Homo sapiens: one gene and its partners. The protein of the gene in region 3 interacts with the protein of the main gene of each other region in a biochemical or structural test. Each region holds a gene or a part of one and is shown on either strand. Other genes may lie near its edges. The genes, in order: COP1, TLK1 and STK40.

Evidence for each region.
Region 1: the proteins of STK40 (region 3) and COP1 interact in a test that uses a peptide from one of them, tested with the Homo sapiens proteins (one study listed by BioGRID).
Region 2: the proteins of STK40 (region 3) and TLK1 form a complex in vitro, tested with the Homo sapiens proteins (one large-scale study listed by BioGRID).

Annotation. Positions count from the first base shown.
Region 1 is NC_000001.11:175,990,780-175,994,432, forward strand, and holds part of COP1 (E3 ubiquitin-protein ligase COP1), read right to left. Parts: intron 1-3,653. UniProt on the Homo sapiens protein: E3 ubiquitin-protein ligase that mediates ubiquitination and subsequent proteasomal degradation of target proteins.
Region 2 is NC_000002.12:171,003,750-171,007,402, reverse strand, and holds part of TLK1 (serine/threonine-protein kinase tousled-like 1), read left to right. Parts: intron 1-339; coding exon 340-431; intron 432-513; coding exon 514-603; intron 604-759; coding exon 760-929; intron 930-1,120; coding exon 1,121-1,256; intron 1,257-3,653. UniProt on the Homo sapiens protein: Rapidly and transiently inhibited by phosphorylation following the generation of DNA double-stranded breaks during S-phase. This is cell cycle checkpoint and ATM-pathway dependent and appears to regulate processes involved in chromatin assembly.
Region 3 is NC_000001.11:36,379,367-36,383,019, forward strand, and holds part of STK40 (serine/threonine-protein kinase 40), read right to left. Parts: intron 1-3,653. UniProt on the Homo sapiens protein: May be a negative regulator of NF-kappa-B and p53-mediated gene transcription.

The DNA of each region.
Region 1 (3,653 bases), about 140 Mb from region 3:
AGCCATTCTACCATTTTTCTTGACTACTACTTACATGGTATATCTTTTTCCATCCTGTTACTTTAACCTATTTGTGTCTGTGAATCTAAAGTCTATCTCTTGTAGACAGCATAAAGCTGGATTCTAATTTTTTTTTTTTTGTAAACCCATTCTGCCAATCCCTGAATGTTACAACATTCAACATACTTACATTTAATATAATTATTAATAGGTTGCACATCTGAAATCAAAAAATCCCAAATCCTTGCTTTTGGAGTGCCAACATTTCAATCAAAGCTCCAAATGCTTCTTCATTGGAGCATTTCAGATTTTGGATTTGAGATGCTGAACAGTAAGTACAATAATACATACTTAACAATGGAGATACATTCTGAGAAATGTATCATTCAGCAATTTCATCACTGTGTGAGCATACAGTGTACTTTCACAAACCTAGATGGTATAGACTACTACACACTTAGGTTATGTGGAATAGCCTATTGTGCTCCTATGCTACAAACCTATGTATCATGTTACTGTACTGAATGCTGTAGGAAACTGTAACAATGGTAAATATTTACGTATCTAAATATAGAAAAGCTACAGTAAAAATAAGATATAAAAGGTAAAAAATGGTACACACCCATACAGGGGACTTATGATGAATGGAGTTTGCAGGACTGAAAATTGTTTTGGGTGAGTTAGTGAGTGGTAAATGAACATGAAGGCCTAAGACGTTAACAGTATACCTAGGCTACACTAAATTTACTGTAAAAAAGTGTTCTCCCTTCAGAAATAAATCAACCTTACCTTACAGTGATTTTCTGACTTTATAAACTTAAAAAATTTTTAAAGCTTTTTGACTCTTGTAATAACACTTAGCTTAAAACACATACATTGTACAGCTGGACAAAAGTATTTCCTTTTTACATTTCCTTATAAGTTAAAAAATTAAAATAGGAAAAAGCTTTTTAAACTTTTTTGTTAAAAACTAAGAAACAGAAAGTTAGCCTAGGTCTACACAGGGTCAGGATAATCAATATCACTGTTTTCACCTCCACGTTTTGTCTCACTGAAAAGTCTTCAAGGGTAATGATATGCATAGAGATGTCATCTTCTCTGATAACAGTACCTTTTTCTGGAATGTCTCCTGAAGGGCCTGCCTGAGGCTGTTGTATAGTAACTTAAAAAAACAAGTGTAAGAAGTACAGTCTATAATAATGGTAAAAAGTAAATAATAAACAAGTATATAGTTATTTATTATCTTTATCAAGTATTGTGTAGTATACGTAATCGTATGTGCTAGACTTTTTGAACATTTTTAATTTTTTTTGAGTATTATAGTTGGTATATACACTTATGTGGAATATGAGATGTTTTGATACAGGCATGCAATGCATAATAATCACATCATGGAGAATGGCGCACCTACCTCAAGCATTTATCCTTTGTGTTACAATCTAATTATACATTTTCAGTTATTTAAAAATGTACAATGGGAGGTGGAGGCAAGATGGCCAAATAGGAACAGCTCCAGTCTACAGCTCCCAGAGTGAGCGACGCAGAAGACGGGTGATTTTGCATTTCCATCTGAGGTACCAGGTTCATCTCACTAGGGAGTGCCAGACAGTGGGTGCAGGAGAGTGGGTGCAGCGCACCGTGCGCGAGCCAAAGCAGGGTGAGGCATTGCCTCACTCGGGAAGCGCAAGGGGTCAGGGAGTTCCCTTTCCTAGTCAAAGAAAGGAGTGACAGACGGCACCTGGAAAATTGGGTCACTCCCACCCTAATACTGCGCTTTACCGACAGGCTTAAAAAATGGCGGACCAGGAGATTATATCCCGCACCTGGCTCGGAGGGTCCTACGCCCACGGAGTCTCGCTGACTGCAAGCACAGCAGTCTGAGATCAAACTGCAAGGCGGCAGCGAGGCTGGGGGAGGGGCACCTGCCATTGCCCAGGCTTGCTTAGGTAAACAAAGCAGCTGGGAAGCTCGAACTGGATGGAGCCCACCACAGCTCAAGGAGGCCTGCCTGCCTCTGTAGGCTCCACCTCTGGGGGCAGGCACAGACAAAAAGACAGCAGTAACCTCTGCAGACTTAAATGTCCCTGTCTGACAGCTTTGAAGAGAGCAGTGGTTCTCCCAGCATGCAGCTGGAGATCTGAGAACGGGCAGACTGCCTCCTCAAGTGGGTCCCTGACCCCTGACCCCCAAGCAGCCTAACTAGGAGGCACCACCCAGTAGGGGCAAACTGACACCTCACACCGCCGGGTACTCCTCTGAGACAAAACTTCCAGAGGAACGATCAGAGAACAGGACTTGCGGTTCACGAAAAGCCGCTGTTCTGCAGCCACCGCTGCTGGGACCCAGGCAAACAGGGTCTGGAGTGGACCTCTAGCAAACTACAACAGACCTGCAGCTGAGGGTCCTGTCTGTTAGAAGGAAAACTAACAAACAGAAAGGACATCCACACCAAAAACCCATCTGTATATCACCACCATCAAAGACCAAAAGTAGATAAAACCACAAAGATGGGGAAAAAACAAAGCAGAAAAACTGGAAACTCTAAAAAGCAGAGTGCCTCTCCTCCTCCAAAGGAACGCAGCTCCTCACCAGCAACGGAACAAAGCTGGATGGAGAATGGCTTTGACGAGTTGAGAGAAGAAGGTTTCAGATGATCAAACTACTCTGAGCTACAGGAGGAAACTTAAACCAAAGGCAAAGAAGTTGAAAACTTTGAAAAAAATTTAGACGAATGTATAACTAGAATAACCAATACAGAGAAGTGCTTAAAGGAGCTGATGGAGCTGAAAGCCAAGGCTCGAGAACTACGTGAAGAATGCAGAACCCTCAGGAGCCGATGAGATGAACTGGAAGAAAGGGTATCAGTGATGGAAGATGAAATGAATGAAATGAAGCGAGAAGGGAAGTTTAGAGAAAAAAGAATAAAAAGAAATGAGCAAAGCCTCCAAGAAATATGCGACTATGTGAAAAGACCAAATCTACGTCTGATTGGTGTACCTGAAAGTGATGGGGAGAATGGAACCAAGTTGGAAAACACTCTGCAGGATATTATCCAGGAGAACTTCCCCAATCTAGCAAGGCAGGCCAACTTTCAGATTCAGGAAATATAGAGAACGCCACAAAGATACTCCTCGAGAAGAGCAACTCCAAGACACATAATTGTCAGATTCACCAAAGTTGAAATGAAGGAAAAAATGTTAAGGGCAGCCAGAGAGAAAGGTCGGGTTAACCACAAAGGGAAGCCCATCAGACTAAGAGGGGATCTCTGGGCAGAAACTCTACAAGCCAGAAGAGAGTGGGGGCCAATATTCAACATTCCTAAAGAAAAGAATTTTCAACCCAGAATTTCATATCCAGCCAAACTAAGCTTCATAAGTGAAGGAGAAATAAAATACTTTACAGACAAACAAATGCTGAGAGAATCTGTCACCACCAGGCCTGCCCTAAAAGAGCTCCTGAAGGAAGCACTAAACATGGAAAGGAACAACCCATACCAGCCACTGCAAAATCATGCCAAATTGTAAAGCCCATCGAGGCTAGGAAGAAACTGCATCAACTAACGAGCAAAATAACCAGTTAACATCATAATGACAGGATCAAATTCACACATAACAATATTAACTTTAAAGGTAAATGGACTAAATGCTCCAATG
Region 2 (3,653 bases), on a different chromosome or scaffold from region 3:
CTGTTTTCCTGGCTGCTTACTACTAGTATAGAGGAATAAGTCCATATTAAAAACAAATAATAGCTTTATTGTTTTATTTTTATTCAGTATATTGGCATTTATAAAATTTAATGTGAAAATTCACATTAAGGTTTTCTCTGATTTATTACCATGGAATTTCTGTCTTCTGATAATAAAAGTGTCATTGAGCTATATATAGTCTTAGCAGAGAAGATCATTAATAATTGTAGGGTTTGTCCTAATTCCATATTATTGCAAAAATTATCACCAAAATAAAAAACATCTCTTCAGCTATTCAATTGGTCTTTCATCTTAATTGTTTTTGACTTGAAATCCTAGGCTTTTGACCTTTATGAACAAAGATATGCTGCTGTGAAGATACATCAGCTTAATAAAAGCTGGAGAGATGAGAAGAAAGAAAACTACCACAAGTAAATACTAATACTTTATGGTTTTTTAAAATTGAATATTTTTTGAATGATCATGGAGAATTAATACACTGTCTTCTCATAGACATGCCTGCAGAGAGTATAGAATACACAAAGAACTGGATCACCCCAGAATAGTTAAACTCTATGATTATTTCTCCTTGGATACAGATACGTAAGTGAATATTAAGGTTCAATTTTTAAGGAAAGATATGCTTGCTTTCTCTTTCCCCATCCTGTGTTGATGATATAAATACTCTCCATTTCCCCATTGTGATTCTGAATTCTTGGATATTACTTATGTCTAATTTTTTTCTCTTCTCTGTTGTAGGTTTTGTACAGTGTTAGAATACTGTGAAGGCAATGACTTGGATTTCTATCTGAAGCAACACAAGTTAATGTCAGAGAAAGAAGCTCGGTCTATTGTAATGCAGATTGTAAATGCACTAAGATATCTCAATGAGATCAAACCCCCTATTATACATTATGATCTTAAGCCAGGTAATTATGAAATTTGTCTAATTTTTTTTAAACTTGAGTATAGTTTTTAAAAGTCATTCATTAAGTTATCTGAAAACATGTTTTTTGGTTTCTCTTGTAAGACATCAGTAAAATACTAGTAAAATTAAAAGTTATTAAAGTTATGTTTTTCATGTATGTATCATTAAAAGAATCTTATATTTTATTCTTAGGAAACATCCTACTGGTAGATGGAACAGCATGTGGTGAAATCAAAATCACTGATTTTGGTCTGTCCAAGATTATGGATGATGATAGCTATGGTGTAGATGGAATGGATCTAACTTCCCAGGGGGCAGGCACTTACTGGTAAGTGTATTACTAAAAACATCAGAATGTCTAGATTGGTGCCCAGTGCTTTTATAATAATTTAGTGTTTTTTTTTTTATTTCCATGTAGCCATTAAGATTACTGTGGTAAAGGTACTGATATTAAGCTCTCAGTTGAGAGGGAGACTTCTGTGGTCATTCCTCTTTTCTCATCTGTTCTTAACTGCAAATAACAGCATACTGGAGAGAGAATGACCTGGCATTAACAAGTGACTTCAGTACCTGCCAGTCAGAAACTCCTAACAGGAAGAATTCATTCATGGGTTTTCTTCTACAATGTTAGCGTGATGTTCATCATAAATATAAATACTTATGTTAATATAATATTTTAACTATTGCAAGCAAAAACTGCAAGCATCAAGCCCTCTCTGTGGAGGTTATATGGTTGCAGGAATTTTCATTTTATTTTGAGACAGGGTCTTGCCCTGTGCAGTGGTGTAATCTTAGTTCATTGCAGCCTCAAACTCCTAGGCTCAAGCGATCTGCCCACTTACTCTTGAGTAACTGAGACCACAGGTACGCACCACTATGCCCAGCTAATCTAAACTTTTTGTAGAGACCAGGTCTTAATTTGTTGCCCAGGCTGGTCTTGAACTCCTGGTATCAAGTGATCTGCCTCTCCCAAAGTGCTTGGATTACAGGCGTGAGCCACTGCACCTGGCTGGTGGTTTTTGTGGAAGATGGATGTTTTGTTGGCTGTGAATGGGAGATAAATTTGGCATATTCTTTGGACTTGACTTTCAGAAATCCCTTTTAAAGACTTGATATGTCTAGATTTAAATTTAGATATAATCACAGATTCATAGATATAAATCTAAATGACTGTCATCCCCTCAGTATACCTACGTGTTCACAAAAACTACTTCAGTGTGAATTTTCAAACTTGTTAAATTCACCAAAGTGGAGAACATAAACTATAAAATTTCAAAACAAACTTAGTTCTCAGAGAAAATTAGTTTAGCATAAAGAGTGACATTTTAATGGAAGAAAGATAACTGCGTTCAACTTCATTGAAACAGGATTGTGACTACAAACATAAATGTGACTTCAGGTTTTCCAGAACAGTATTCACACAAACTGAGCACATCATAACCACTTACACACGATGCCACTGTCTGTATAGATTTCACTTTTAATGAGCAGGGATTAGTCATATTCATGTATTCTTTTAAAGCCACTTTCAAATTTTAAATTTGGCTTGTGGCATTTCCTAGGAACATGGATAAGATAATAATGTCATGAATTTTTTCTTCATATTTTAAGAAAACTATTCAAACTGGTAACCCCCTGAAAGTCAATATTCTCAAAGTCTTTGGACTTTTTTCTTTTAGCAACAAGGCTCATTTTTTTTTTTAACAACAAAATCTTATTCTAATAAAACCAACAAAAACAAAGCATCTTGGTAGAATCTTAGATTCCATGGAAGATAGCTTGAAAACCATGTTCTAAACAATAAATTATTCTTCGTCTGCAGGACATTCTCATTATTTGTTTCTCTCTCACTCTGGCTTCACTAGTATAGGGAAGGACAAGGAAATTTCCCTTTTACAGATGTTCGAGGGACAAAGAGCTTATGTTTCAGGGGCTGTACTGGAAGGAGATACAATAATGGCATTGTTCTATAGGAACATGGAATGTATTTCTCATGGAAATCTGTGGTCCAAAAATTGGTTTATGTCTACAGTCATATTAGTTGTTTAGCTATGTACAGCTGACCTTGAATAATATAGGTTTGAAATGCATGGGTCCACTTTTATGTGGCTTTTTTTTTTCCGATAAATACATTGGAAAATTTTTTGGAGATTTGCAACAATTTGAAAAATCTCACTGACGAACCATGTAGCCTAGAAATATTGAAAAAATTGGCTGGACACGGTGGCTCACGCCTGTAATCCAAGCATTCTGAGAGGCTGAGGCGGGCGGATCACTTGAGGTCAGGAGTTCGAGACCAGCCTGGCCAACGTGGTGAAACCTCGTCTCTGCTAAAAATACTAAAAGTACAAAAGTTAGCTGGGCATGGTGGCCATGCCTGGAATCCCAGCTACTTGGGAGGCTGAGGCAGGGGAATTGTTTGAATCCAGGAGGCAGAGGTTGCAGTGAGCTGAGATCATACCACTGCACTCCTGCCTGGGCGACAGAGCAAGACTCCGTCTCGAAAAAAAAAATACTGAAAAAATTAAGAAAAAGGTATGTCACGAAGGCGTGAAATATATGTAGATACTTGTCTGTTTTACCATTTACTGCCATAAAATGTACACAAATCTATTACAAGAAGTTAAAATTTATCAAAACGTATACAAACACAGACTGTACCTGGTGCTATTTGCAGTTGAGAGAAACGTAAACAAATGTAAAGATGCCGAATTAAATAATAACT
Region 3 (3,653 bases):
GGAGAGAATGAACACCGTTGGGTTGTAGCCTCTTTTTTTTTTTTTTTTGAAACGGAGTCTCGCTCTCTCACCCAGGCTGGAGGGCAGTCACTGCAAGCTCCGCCTCCTGGGTTCACGCCATTCCCTGCCTCAGCCTCCCGAGTAGCTGGGACTACAGGTGCCCACCACCACGTCCGGCTAATTTTTTGTATTTTTAGTAGATACAGGGTTTTACCGTGTTAGCCAGGATGGTCTTGATCTCCTGACCTCGTGATCTGCCTGCCTCGGCCTCCTAAAGTGCTGGGATTACAGGTGTGAGCCACCGCGCCCGGCCTGGGTTGTAGCCTCTTTAGGGAGTGGGAACACCTGTGTTCCCCTCAGGACGTACGACCTCAACCCAAAAGAACAGATTCACTTGCTGGGGGAAAAATAAGGCTGCCCCAATTTATTAAAAGGAGACCTAGAAATTCTTTAACAATAATAATAATAAAGGATAGTCTTTGAGGCAGCAATTCACTTCTAGAAATTTATCCTGCAGATGATACCTAAGGTGGGCAAAATCATATGTATGAAGAAAGTCACTTCAGCAGAAGTGTTTAGAGAGTAGAATGCAGAAAATAACCCAAGTGTTTGTTAGCAGAGAGCTTGTTGAATAAATTACACTCACAGTGGGACACATCATAGCCACAAATGACCCAGACCTGCATGTGCCAAAGTGGAACTATCTCTAAGATAGTAAGTAAATCACAGCAAGCAATTGCATCCTTTCCCCTCTAGGATCTTGATTACAGAGCCTGGGAGGATATGCGGGGGCTGCTGTGGGCCCTCGACTACCTTCGAGGTCAGAGTCTCACCTGAGCAGGTGGAGGAGAAAGAAGTGCTCTTGTTTCAGATCATTTTCTCGTTTACTTTCTTTACACCACAAACCCAAGGACAAATCATGTAAAAAAATCTCCCAAATTCCAAAGGGCCTGTTTGAAGGCCCGCCCACCAGCACACCCCTCACTATAGTCCAATCCAGCTGAGGGACAGCTTCTGGCTCCCTTAGAACTTCAAGGGTCAAGGACACTGGGCAGCTTTCTCTCCCTTCCCTGAAGGTTCTGAGCAAGTCCTGGGTGGCCTCTGGCAGATATCAGTCCTTCCTGAGAAGAAGGACTGAATCTGCTGAGCCAGCTTCAGGCAGCAAATCCAATTTCCAGACCTCTCTCTAGATAAGATCTCCAGGGGGCACTGAGAAAGCCTCTCTCCCCTGAGGGTCTCTGCTGTTCAGGACCCCATCAGTGGGCTGTAGTATGCTGAATCGGGGTGGATATTGCCAGAGGGAAGGGTTGCTCTTAGGGCTATTGGAAGGCTGAAGATTTATCGCTTTATAGATGTGAAACATGAAGAGGTTCACCTCCCTGGTTAAATCTGGGCAGAGGAAAGGTGAAGGAAGGAAAGCTGCCCTTCTCCCAGGTGCTGATTCAGGCGAAAGCAAAGGGAAGCCTGGCCCAAGTCCAGACAGGGGTCTACAAGACCTTCCAACTGATCCTCTCCCGAGAGGGTGTGCCCAGGGTTTACTGAACGAAGCTGGCAGATTTCACTGGCCATTATCTTCTCCTTGAGCCATCCCTATCTCTGCACTATCATTCACTCTGTCACCCAAACCAAGGACCTCAAGGTTACCTGTCACCATTCCTCCTCCCTCTGGCATCACTTCCAAACACTCCCAGAGTCCAGTTGATTTCCCCCCAAACAGCTCATCTCTGCTCTTCTTCTCAACCCTATTGCCTCTGCCCTGATCCAAGCCCCTCTCAGCCCTTGCTGGGATTACTGCAACAGCCTCCTATGGGGACTCCAACCTCTCCCCAACCCACTCCATCCTCCAAAGCAGATGCAGGTCTAATGGTATGTTTCCTCCACTTAATGCAAGGCATCCATCACCAACAGAATACAAAATTCAAGCATCTGCGCCCTAGTGCCTGCCTACCTCTCAGGCACATCCTGCAGTCAGTCCCTTCACACTCTGGGCTAGAACTCCTGTGGTTCCTAAAGTGCCACACAAATTACCACATATCCGTGCTTGTGCCAGGCTGCTCCCCCTGCCTGGAGGGCTTCATAGACCCCCAGAAAACTCTATTCATTCTTCACGATCCAATTCAAGTTCTTTTTTTGAGACAGGGTCTCACTCTGTTGTCCAGGCTCGAGTGCAGTGGTGTGATTACAGCTTACTGGGAGTTGGGAACTCCCAGGTTCAAGTGATCCTCCCACTTCAGCCTTCCAAGTAGCTGGAACTACAGGTACATGCCACCACGCTTAACTAATTTTTTTCTTTTTTAATTTTTGTAGAGATGGGGTCCCACTATGTTGGCCAGGCTGGTCTTCAATTTCTGGGCTCAAGCGATCCTCCTGCCTCGGCCTCCCAAAGTGTTGGGATTACAGGTGTGAGCTGCTGTGCCCAGTCCCAGTTCAAGTTCTAAGGGCTCTCTGAAGTTCTCCCCAGTCTCCTCCTCATCCTAGAGCTCGATCACTTCTTCCACTGGGTTCCCCCACATGCTATAGACTTCTGTGAGAGACTTGCCAAACTGTGCACATGTTAACTGGTTAGGAGCCTGCCCCTAGATCACAACCTCCTCCATGGTAGGGCCTGCCTCTCCATCCTCCTCCTGCCCCCAGGACCCAGCAGAGCCCCAGCCACACATGGGAGCTCATGTATGTGGAATCAGGGCTCTGTATTTTGAGCTACCACACTCATCAGTGTGTGTGATGCCTCTTGATGCTGCTTATTCAGGTACCAGACTAGGGTTGCTAGCAGGGACACACAGAGAAGAAATTCTAAATACATTTACTCCCATGTATACTTTTTTTTTTTTGAGACAGGGTCTCACTGTGTCACCTAAACTGGAATGCAGTGGTGCAATCTCGGCTCACTGCACCCTTGATCTCCTGGGCTCAAGAGATCCTTCCACCTCAGCCTCCCTAGTAGCTGGGACTACAGGTGCGTATGACCATGCCCAGCTAATTTTTGTATTTTTTGTAGAGACGGGTTTCGCCATGTTGCCCAGACTGGTCTTGAACTCCTAGGCTCAAGCGATCTGCCCATCTCGGCCTCCCAAAGTGCAGGGATTACAGGCGTTAGCCACCGCGCCTGGCCAACCCATGTATACTTTAAAGTACTATTTTTTTCTCAGCAGTCCTACTTCTATTTTTAAAAATAGTTCTTTTAAAGAGCCAAACTGAATCATCTGCATGGCTCCCATACAGACTGGGTAAACTCCCCTTAGATTTTCTTTTCAGAAAGAATAAAATAAAACTCTGTGATCTTGTGATCCCTCAGGACACTTCTGACAGCTCAATGGGACATAGTTCTAGTTGCCATGAATTGCTGCAACTAATTCCTAAAAGTTCTTTCCTGTAGCCTGTAATAAGAGCTAACATTTACTACTCAGTGTCTGTTAAGTACTCATCCTGTAACATCTTACTTACTCCTCACAACTGCCCTATTACGAAGGTACTCTTATTGTCCCCATTTTACAGATGAGAAAGCTGTGGTGGAGAGAATAAGTAATCCCTAGTGACCAGCAGGGATAGAAGTAGAACACAGATCTGTCTGATGGCAGAGCCAAATAAGCTTTTTTTTTGAGACAGAGTTTCGCTCTTGTTGCCCAGGCTGGAGTGCAATGATGCAATTTTGG